Regions from separate parts of the Homo sapiens genome. Here region 1 is linked to region 2. Evidence: fine-mapped QTL for protein levels in blood plasma. A gene starts in region 2. The other region holds a variant in brackets. All regions are shown on one strand. Distances are from middle to middle. Region 1 holds the start of LOC107986186 (a long non-coding RNA gene). Region 2 holds the start of CD38 (CD38 molecule).

Region 1 (5,386 bases), 24 kb after region 2:
GATGTTACAATAACCCAAGTCTATGATGATGACCTGAGTCATTCATAGAAGATATACCCATTAAGGACATCATCTTCATAAAACTAGTTATATGCAACACGTCCTATGTCAAAATGTTTCTCAACATGTGTTAACCTATCAAACACACTCTCAACTAATCTCCACCCAGGTCAGGAAAATGTGGTTGAGTGTCACTTCCTGAGTCTGGCTGGTACTGCAAATATAAATTCAACGTTTTTTCAAACACATCTCACCCCCAGACCTGCCATTGGCATGCACATCTTTAACCACAAACCACGATTGAAAATGAGAAAGAAAACTCTCCTCTAGCTGGGCGCTTCATAGGACTAGCCAGGTACGACCATCTCTGAGGGTCTTTGACAGCTCAGTTTTACTGCATAATCTGTTTTCAAGACCCTTTAAAAGACCAGATTGTCTAGTACTTTTCTTTTATGAGAAGAGCTTCCCCCAACCCACCCTGCAGTCTTTTAGCAAAAACACCAGAAAGTCGGTTTTTCCCCCTTGTTTTGTTGTTGTTTTTGTTGTTCATGGTGGTGTGTTTTGTTTGTTTCAGTTTTATTTTTTCAAATTCCATGGTTATTTTCAAAATGAAGATCTAGCTTACAGTGTAATTTTTAAGTTTATGTTTATGTTGCAGAGACTGGGAGAACTGTTTAGTCACCACCTTGAGAACCTTAACATCATCTATCAGTTTACATGGTACTTGCCCTGTGGAGGAACTCAGAGCTCTCAGATTGTTTTACCTTTATTCCCTGGAAGCTTTGGACTATTGGAATATAAGCTGGAATAAGAAACTCATTGATTTGAAATTGGAGTGAAGTGATTATCTGTCTAATAACCCAATGGTTAAGTTTTTTTTTTCAAATAGGGTTTTCAGAGTACACAAATGAGCACACACTCACACACTCACAGATGCATAAACACTCTAAGACCTTCATCACTGGTGGTAACCACCACTCTACATTGACTGAAGGTGACATCTGGACTCAGCATTTCTTTTTTCTTTGGGGCTTTTCACCCATAAATAATATGCAGTTGTTCAATTCATTGCTAAACTACAGAGATCCAGTGAAGAATGAATACATTAATATTGCAAATGCATTTACTCTTTGACTCACTGACCCCATTTCTAGGAATTCAACCTACAAATATCTCTGCCCACATGAAAGATAATAAATATACCAGATTAGTCATTGCAGCATTGTTTATAAGAGAAACTGGCGCCAGGCACGGTGGCTCATGCCTGTAATCCCAGAACTTTGGGAGGCCAAGGCGGGCGGATCAAGAGGTCAGGAGTTCAAGACCAGCCAGACAAACATGGTGAAACCCCATCTCTACTAAAAATACAAAAATTAGCCAGGCGTGGTGGTGCACACCTGTAATCCCAGCTACTGAAGAGGCCGAGGCAGGAGAATCACTTGAACCTGGGAGGCGGAGGTTGCAGTGAGCTGAGATTGCACTACTGCACTCCAGCCTGGGCGACAGAGTGAGACTCCATCTCAAAAAAATAAAAAAATAAAAAAAAGAGAAACTGATTGCAAACAACCTAAATGATGTTCCTAACGGGGTGGGTTAAATAAATTACAAAACATCTCTCCCATGGAATATTATGCAGCTGTAAAAAATAAAGTGAGGGATCTCTGTATGTATTGATACAGAATAATCTCCAGGATGTACTATTAAGGAGTACAAAGTATTTTGTGTTTAATGCTTCCTTTTGTGTAAGAAAAGGTAGGGAGTAATAACATGTATTTGTATGTGCTTGTGCAAAGAAACCCTAGACAGATCTACATGAACTTTAAACAAGTGGTCATCCGAATTAGAGGTGTGGGACCAGAACAGGGGACAGGAGTGGGAATGAGATTTTTTCATAGTGTTTTATTTTTAAGCCATGTGTATATACTACCTTTTCAGAAATAACATAAAAATCACCAAATGTAAACTAAAACAAATCTACGTACTTAAATTACAAAAATGGACCGCTGGGAAAGAGCCCGTTTTTTCCATCTTTTCAGGCATGCTTATCAAATACTTCATCAGTTGGAAATTCAACAAAATAAAGTATGTGTGCAGCTACATCTGACGTTGATTCTTTATCTCATTCAAAACCACACAGTGCTGACAGCAACATCCTTCCTCTCAGCATTCATGCTTCTGCTACCACCCAGGGGCACTGAGTTCACAGCCAGCTCACAGAAGGTAAGAAACTGCACACAACCCTTAGAGAGGAGACAATCTTAGACATGTGCATGCTTCAGAGAACATCTGGAAATTCTGCAATGTTCCTGAACTCAACATACCCCTGTTTCCTTGGGTTCTTTTAGGCCAGTTTTCACAATGGGGTCACACTAATCCTCACAACCTCTACTTTAGCG[A/G]CTCATGAAGCCTCTATTGTTCTGCAGAACACCATCCCCTTTCAAAGAGCCTCCCTCTCAATATTTCCGGGGGTCTTCGTGGGGATTATCACATCTGCACTTGAAAAAGCTGCCCACAGTCCCACAGGCCTCCATCGTGGTTTTCCTCTCTTTTCAATCTCCACTGATGATACACACGAAGAAGCTGTGGCCTCACACCCCCCCACTTGGCCTTCCAGATCTTCCAGCCTCTCCCTTTGGCTCTCTGCCCTGGATCCAGCCCCAGGAGGCTCTCCCAAAGGAAGGAAGGTGACTGAGGTCCGGTTATCCATTCCCTCAGCTGGCTTCCTCCCTGCAGGGTTGCCTCAGGCCACTGGGTTCCTTGACAGAGGCCACTGCTCTTCTCCAGATGACCTCTCCATGGGACTCTCTCCTTCCGGATTCCCATGACCTCCCTGTTGCCTCACTCTGTGAGGCCTTGGTGCATCTCTGTACACATCAATGGTTTGCAGATAGTCCCTATTAAACCTCCTCCGATTTTCCTGATTTGAGTGTGCTATCTGTGTGTCTGGATGGGCCCTGACCGATTTGGACTCTCCCTGCCTGCAAGGCAGTTTATGTATGTCCCATCATTGCCTTTGGTGGGCACCATCTCTGCGAACCTCCAGCTGTGCCATGGCTGGGCCACACTTTGAGAGCTGGGTCCTATCCCAATACTGTTTGTGGCTCTGTGTCTCGTAACATTCTTAAAGACCCTACTCTTTCTCCTTAGGGCTCACCTAATGGAGAGGGATGCTACTAATAATTATGCAAGGACAAAGGACACCCACTGGCGCGATCGTGAGCCATTCAGGATGTTTGGTTTCTACATGTATACACAGGAGCACACACATACATAAAAAATCTCTGCTACAGATACGATGGATACCTTCTAATTCTTCTCCCTTTTCCAGACCGCCTTTATCTGAAAAAATCCCTCCCACAAATGGACTTCTGAAAGTCCCATGCTATCAGCTCTGACATATCTGAGCCCCAGAGATAGAGACAGCTTAGACAGAGGCTGGAACATATCTAATCTGAAATTTTAGAAGAAGAATGCAGCGTGCTGTATTTTGGATATGACATTTATATCAGAGAGATGAAGATGGAGGGTGATATATTGCCAGATGAAATGCTAAGAGGACAGCCACTTTATCTTCTTAGTGATTTATATTTAAATATTTTTTAGTGATTTATATTTATATTTCTTAGTGATTTATATTTAAATATTTCTTAGTGATTTATATTTATATTTCTTAGTGATTTATATTTAAATATTTCTTAGTGATTTATATGTAAATCACTTTATCTTCTTAGTGATTTATATCTTCTTAGTGATTTATATGTACTATTTACATTATCAACCAGCATCAATGTGCAGTGGCCAGAAGCCTCTCTCCAGTGGGCCTTTACTGGCTTTCCATCTCATTCCAAAAAAAGCCAGTGAAATAGCCTGCAAGGCCTGACCTGATCTGGCCTATTTTCTTCCCTCACCTTGATCCTGCCATCCTGGCCTCCTTGCCGTTCCTCAAATAGTTCAGACACATGGCTACCACGGGGCCTTTGCTTCTGCTCCTTCTGCTTGAAATGTTCATTCTATAGATATAAGAATGGCTTGGGAGGCTGAGGCAGGTGGATCACTTGAGGTCAGGAGTTTGAGACCAGCCTGACCAACATGGAGAAACCGTGTCTCTACTAAAAATACAAAATTAGCTCTGCATGGTGGCACATACCTGTAATCCCAGCTACTCAGGAGGCTGAGGCAGGAGAATCACTGGAACCCGGGAGGCGGGGGTTGCAGTGAGCCGAGATTGCGCCATTGCACTCCAGCCTGGGCAATAAGAGCGAAACTCTGTCTCAAAAAAAAAAAAAGAATAGCTTGATTCCTTCACTCCTTCAAATCTTTGTTTAAACATCATCTTCTCAATGAGGCCTATCCAGACTTCTCATTTAAAACCATAGCCCCAGCCTAGCTTTCCATGTTGTATTATTTCCTGGAGCATGCATCACCTTCGAAAATACAATTTATTCCTTATACAAGCTATTTATTATCTCCACCCACTAGAATGTGCACTACAAGAACATATGCACAATTGCCCATTTACTGAATAGATCCTAGAACTTAGAAGAACACCTGGAACTCATAAACACACAATGATAGCTGTTTAATGAATTAATGATCAAAGCACAAATCTGATCATACACCTCTCTTGTCAAAGTTTTTTAATCTTTTATGGTTTTCCTTTGCTTTCAGTGCAAAACTAAATCTCCTTAGCATGTTTATAAAACGGCAATAATTCATTTTCTAGTCTTATACGAGCCACGTTCCCACTGCCATGAGTTGTTGCAAGAAATAAATTGTTATAATACACAAAGGAGAAGTGCTGGATTCTGTGTGCTGTGATGAGAAAAGAGACTGAGACATAAGCATATTAAGATGAAGAAAATAGTGACTACAGTGTATATTTATATACACTATACACAGTACATCTATACATAGATGTATATACATAGATATATACATAGATGTGTGCATACTATATGTGGATGTATACATTATATCTATGTATATCTATAAGATATACATATACTATATAAATATAGATCTATAGATATACATATAGTGTATACACATATATCTATATACATAGATATAGTGTATATCTATATACACTGTATACACAATAGTGACTATAATGTATATATCTAGATCTCCACTATGTAGGAAGAGTATTGAATCTTCCCAGCACCCTCCCTTTATGGACCAATGCTACCTTTCTTTTGAGGAATTGCTTCTCTTCCTCTTCTGAATAAAAATACCTGTCTTCTTTCATGGTACCACCTCCCTGATCACAGCTAGTCAATTGTAATAGTCAACCCAGCTTGCCATAGTCATTGGCCCATGGTGGTCATGTGACTCCAGCCCTGCCAATCAGAATGTTCCCCGAGATTTTTTTCAATTAAAGGGGATT
Region 2 (5,386 bases):
GTTTGGTAAGGAGATTTCCAGGCAGAATGTTGAAAGTGCCAACTCACTTCTTTTTTTGGTTTGGTTTGGTTTGGTTTTGAGACGGAGTCTTACTCTCTTGGCCAGGCTGGATCTTGGTTCAGTGCTACCTCCTCCTCCTGGGTTCAAGCGATTCTCCCACCTCAGTCTCCAGAGTAGCTGGGATTACAGGCACGCGCCACAACACCCGGCTAATTTTGTATTTTTAGTAGAGACGGAGTTTCAGCATGTTGGCCAGGCAGGTCTTGTACTCCTGACCTTAAGTGATCCACCTGCCTGGGCCTCCCAAAGTGCTGGGATTACAGGTGTGAGCCACAGTGCCTGGCCCAACTCACTTCTTTTAGCTGTTTCTGATAAGGTGCAGAAAGAAAGAGAGAAAATAATTCTTTATTTTTTTAAAAGCAGAATCAAGAGCAAACATTTCCATGCCAGGATTTGTTGGGTTTGAAAATAAAACTGTCATTGTTAGTCTTTCCAAAGAATATCAAAAAAGAAATAGTCTCAAGGCAATGATCGAGTCCAGAGTGCTGCCAGTAAAACATGTTCACAAGGTCAAGATTTCAGGGATGTGGCTGTAAGACTGTATGTGTGTGTGTGTGTGTGTGTGTGTGTGTGTGTGTGTGTGTGTGTGTGTGAGAGAGAGAATATTATCTAAAATATATAAAAATCTCCCATAAGAAATAAATAAGCAGCTCAATAGAAAGTATCAAGTATCTGGACAGGAAAATCACAGAAAAAAATATAAATGGCAAATAAACATATACAAGATGCTTAGACTCACTGATACTGAGGGAACAATTAGATGCTCTTTTTTCTCTTAAGTAAAAAAGTTGAAAATATTCAGCATTCAAGAGATTGTGGGAAAGCATCCCCTCTGATAGACTGATGATGGGAGAGTAAAATGGCACAACTATTTTGGAGTATATATGGAATACCTGGAATTTGGAAAAATCAAAACTTAAAATATGCATAATTCTCCCTTTTACTCAGCAGTTTCATCACTAGAAATCTATCCTACAGAAATACTCCCATATGTACACACAATGTATGTATGAAGATTTTCATTGCATCATGTTTCTCCCAACTAAGGTGAAAATTTCATGAGTGAGAACTTCGTCATTCACTCTTGTGTCATCAGTAGCTAGATCACTGTCTGGAACATAGTGGGTGCTCAACAGATACTTGTTGGATGAATGAATGGGATTGAAAAATTGGAAACAAGCTAATTTCCTGTCAATAGGAAATGGTTACATCTAGTTTATGAAATACTATGGGCTGTCAAAAGAAATGAGATAGATCTTTATGTACTCACATTGAAAGATCTTCAAGACCAGTGTTACTTTTTTTTTTTTTAATGAGGTTGCTTTCTAACATTACCATTTCATTTTGGATTTCACTTCATACTTTACAATACAGCCTGGAGGAACGCCTCAACTTCTAGTTTCTCTCTCCATTAAGTATCTAATTATGTGTAAATAGAACAACTAACGGGACGCTGGGAAGCCCAGGAGGCAAACATTTTGCAACCGGAACTGTTGAGTGTGCTCGGAGAGGCGAGGGAGGTCTATTTGCTCGTTTCCTCGGATTGCTTAAATGCGGGATTTTGCTATCCCAAAGCACAGAGTGTAAAGTAGCAGCTCCCCCTGCCTGCCTTCCCGGCTTCTTCTGTTTTACAAGCAACGATAATTTCCCGGTGAAAGCGAGGCCTGGGAATCAAATCCAAAAAGTGGTTGTTCCCTTTAGGAGAGGTTAGTAGCTGGAAAGGAGCATGAGAAAACTGGAAGGTCCCATAGACTAATGTGTTTTTTTTCCAAGGTTTGTACAGATTCACCGAGTTGCTGCGCCTTATCATCTAAGTAATGTCTCGGTTTTAGAAGTTGACATTGTTTTGTTAATTACTTCTCTGGTCACATGCATTTCAGGCCGCGCAAAAAGAATCGGAGTGCTGCTTTATATAAATGAATAAAACTAAGTTCCGTGGTTTGGCCCTTCTACACCCTCCTCCCCTACCACAGGCTTTGCAAACCACTTAAGTGTCCTCTGTAACCGTCCGGGGGCACTTTCGGGTCAGAGACAGCGGGCGGAAACCGCAGAAAAAGTTGAAAATGTCAGCGACACCCTGCATCTGCGAGTTCTATTCCGTCCCTGAAGCGGTGAAGCGGGCTGAGCGCGCCGAGGGTGGGCTGCAGCCCGGCGAGGGGCTGGGCTCAGGGCACCTTGCCCAGAAGGCGGGCATCGGTGCCAAGTGTTCACCGGCTACGCAGCAGAGCCACCGAGCAGCGCCCCCCCCCGCCTCCCGCGGGCACGCTCGGTGCCAAGGCCAGCTGCTCCTGAAAGCGGCCCGCGGAGCCCCGAGCCCGGGACTCCCTACTCAGCACCACCCGGCGGGCTCTCGGCTGACCCGCCACGGAAGATGCCCGGTTCCGGGCGATCCGGGCGGCTTCCCTGCGCGCGGGGCCCTGCTGTCCCCGCAGTGCCCACCGGTGCGCCTTAGTCGCCAACCCACCTCATCTCAGGATGAATTTCAGTGTACTTGACGCATCGCGCCAGGACGGTCTCGGGAAAGCGCTTGGTGGTGCCCGGACCGCTCCACTGCTGGCGCCACCTCGGGACGACCACCGCGAGCACCACGACGAGGATCAGGACCAGGATACTGACGCCAAGACAGAGTTGGGCTCTCCTAGAGAGCCGGCAGCAGGGTTTGTCCCCGGACACCGGGCTGAACTCGCAGTTGGCCATAGGGCTCCAGGCGGGGTTGGCTGGGCGAAGATGAGGCCGGCAGGAGGCTAGGCAGCAAGAGAGAGGCTGGCTGGGTTCTGAAACTGCACCTCCCCTTCTGTTTCACTTGCCTTTTCTCTGTTTCCCTTCCCACCCCCAACCCCTTGCCTCAGAGTTCCGTGGCTGGTTACACCAATAAGAGTTTAAAAGACCAACAACTATAGGCTCCTGTGCAGTGACCCACCCACTCCACCTCCAGGGAGAAACAGCCACCTTAATCCTCTGCAGGTGTCCTAAGGGGGCAGACAGTACATCCTTATACTCCCTCCGCTAACTCCCTTCATCAACCGGGCACTTTACACCTGAGCCACATTTGCTTCCTGGAAAGCATGAGGGTGGGCTGCCTGCTTCTATACGTGTGTGCACACAATGCCCTCTGCCTGGAAAAGGATGTCCTACCTCTCTTTCTTAACTCTGACAAATGCCTGGTCAACCACCTTTAAAGACTCAACTTAAGTCTGACTCCTTCTCTCAAGAGGCATCAGTGGCTAAGCTCTGGGTTCAAATTTAGTTCTTGCTGGATGACATGGGGCAAGTTACTTAACCTCTCTGTACTTCAGATGTAAAGCCGGGATAGTAGCAGTACCTACTTCATGGGATTGTTACGAGGATTAAGTGAGTTAATATCTACAACGTGTTTAGCACAATACCTGGCACATGGTAATCACCCAGTAAATGTAAGTTGTTACTACCAGCTCTAGGAGCTGCTCAGAGATGCAATTTTATAGTCCATGGAATGTGTTTGAAGCAGGGTCTGGCACACAGTAATAATACTGCACTCTATGCGGGAGTTTAATAAATAATAAAGTGGCTTTTCTTGCCTCTTCTTTATTAAGAGAACATCTGTGACATTCAAGCAGAGACCTAAGTAATGTGAGCGATCAAGTCACCCAACTCCCTTGGGGCAAACATTTCCCAAGCAGAGGAAATGGCAGGTGCAAAGACTCTGAGGCAGAAAAGCTCTTGGCCTGTTCCAGAGCAGCAAGGAGGCCAATTGTAGTTAGGCTAGAGGGTTGAGGGAAACAGAACAGAAGTTCGGAAAGTAGCAGGAGACCAGATCACCCATAGCTCTGTAAGACAGGATGACTTTTTGGACTGTGTGTTTTATTTATTTTTTATCTTTTTTATTTTGTTTTAAGTTCTGGGATACATGTACAGGACGTGCAGAGTTGTTACATAGGTAAATGTGTGCCATGGTGGTTTGCTGCACCTATCAATCCATTGCTTAGGTATTAAGCCCCTCATGTTTTAGCTATTCTTTCTGATGCTCTCCCTCCCTCCACTCTCCCCAACAGGCCCCAGTGTGTGTTGTTCCCCTCCCTGTGTTCATTGTTCAGCTCCCACTTATAAGTGAGAACATGCAGTGCTTGGTTTTCTGTTCCTGTGTTAGTTTGCTGAGGATAATGGCTTCCAGCTCCATCCATGTCCCTGCAAAGGACATGATCTCGTTCCTTTTTGTGGCTGCACAGTATTCCCTGGTGTATATGTACCACATTGTCTTTATCCAGTCTGTCATTGATGGGCATTTGGGTTGATTCCATGTCATTGCTATTGTGAATAGTGCTACAATGAACATATGCATGCATGTATCTTTATAACAGAATGATTTATATTCCTTTGGGTATATACCCAGTAATGAGATTGCTGGGTCAAATGGTATTTCTGGTTCTAGATCTTTGAGGAATCCCCATACTGTCTTCCACAATGGTTGAACTAATTTACACTCCCATCAACAGTGTAAGTGTTCCTATTTCTCCACAACCTCACCAGCATCTGTTGTTTATTGACTTTTTAATGATCACCATTCTGACTGGCATGAGATGATATTTCATTGTGGTTTTGGTTTGCATTTTTCTAATGATCAATGATGTTGAGCTTTTTTTCATATGTTTGTTGGCTATATAAATGTCTTCTTTTGAGAAATATCTGTTCATGTCCTTTGCCCACTTTTTAATGGGGTTGTTTATTTCTTATAAATTAGTTTAAGTTCCTTGTAGATTCTGGATATTAGACCTTTGTCAGATGGATAGATTTTGAAAATGTTCTCCCATGCTGTAGGTTGTCTGTTCACCCTGATTATAGTTTCTTTCGGTGTGCAGAAGTTCCTGAGTTTAATTGGATCCCATTTGTCATTTTCGCTTTTGTTGGAATTGCTTTTGACATTTTCATTATGAAATCTTTGCCCATGCCTATGTCCTGAATGGTATTGCCTAGATTTTCTTCTAGGGTTTTTATAGTTTTGGGTTTTACATTTTAAATCTTTAATCCATCTTGAGTTAATTTTTGAAAAAGGTGTAAGGAAGGGATCCAGTTTCAATTTTCTGCGTATAGCTAGCCAGTTTTCCCAGCACCATTTATTAAATAGGGAATCCTTTCCCCATTGCTTGTTTTTGTCAGGTCTGTCAAAGATCAGATGGTTGTAGATGTGAGTCTTATTTCTGAGATCTCTATTCTGTTTCATTGGTCTATGTGCCTGTTTTTGGATTTTATTTTTAACCCATTCGTGTGCATTTTATTTTTACCCATACAAGTCACCAAATGACTTGATCTGGCATATTATTTTAAAGGATCAATCTGGCTTTGGTATTAA

What was found. A credible set is the group of variants that fine-mapping cannot tell apart. PIP is the posterior inclusion probability: the model's chance that the variant is causal. The UK Biobank Pharma Proteomics Project read protein levels with antibody pairs (Olink). The fine-mapping took linkage between variants from a reference panel, not from the people measured, so its PIPs are less certain.
Region 1: its variant is the best candidate, but not a certain one, in a credible set for the plasma level of the CD38 protein (UK Biobank, PIP 0.57).

The regions. Positions count from the first base shown.
Region 1 is chr4:15,751,293-15,756,678 of GRCh38, reverse strand. LOC107986186 (a long non-coding RNA gene) reads left to right here and starts at 253. Exons shown (of 2, transcript XR_001741393.2): 1 at 253-355; 2 at 2,138-2,608. It also overlaps a transcript of BST1 not described here. The variant A/G (reference allele first, on the strand shown) is at 2,397.
Region 2 is chr4:15,775,786-15,781,171 of GRCh38, reverse strand. CD38 (CD38 molecule) reads right to left here and starts at 2,844. Exons shown (of 8, transcript NM_001775.4): 1 at 2,525-2,844. The coding sequence starts at 2,757. RefSeq lists silencers at 2,086-2,135, 2,326-2,375 and enhancers at 2,506-3,005, 2,417-3,059.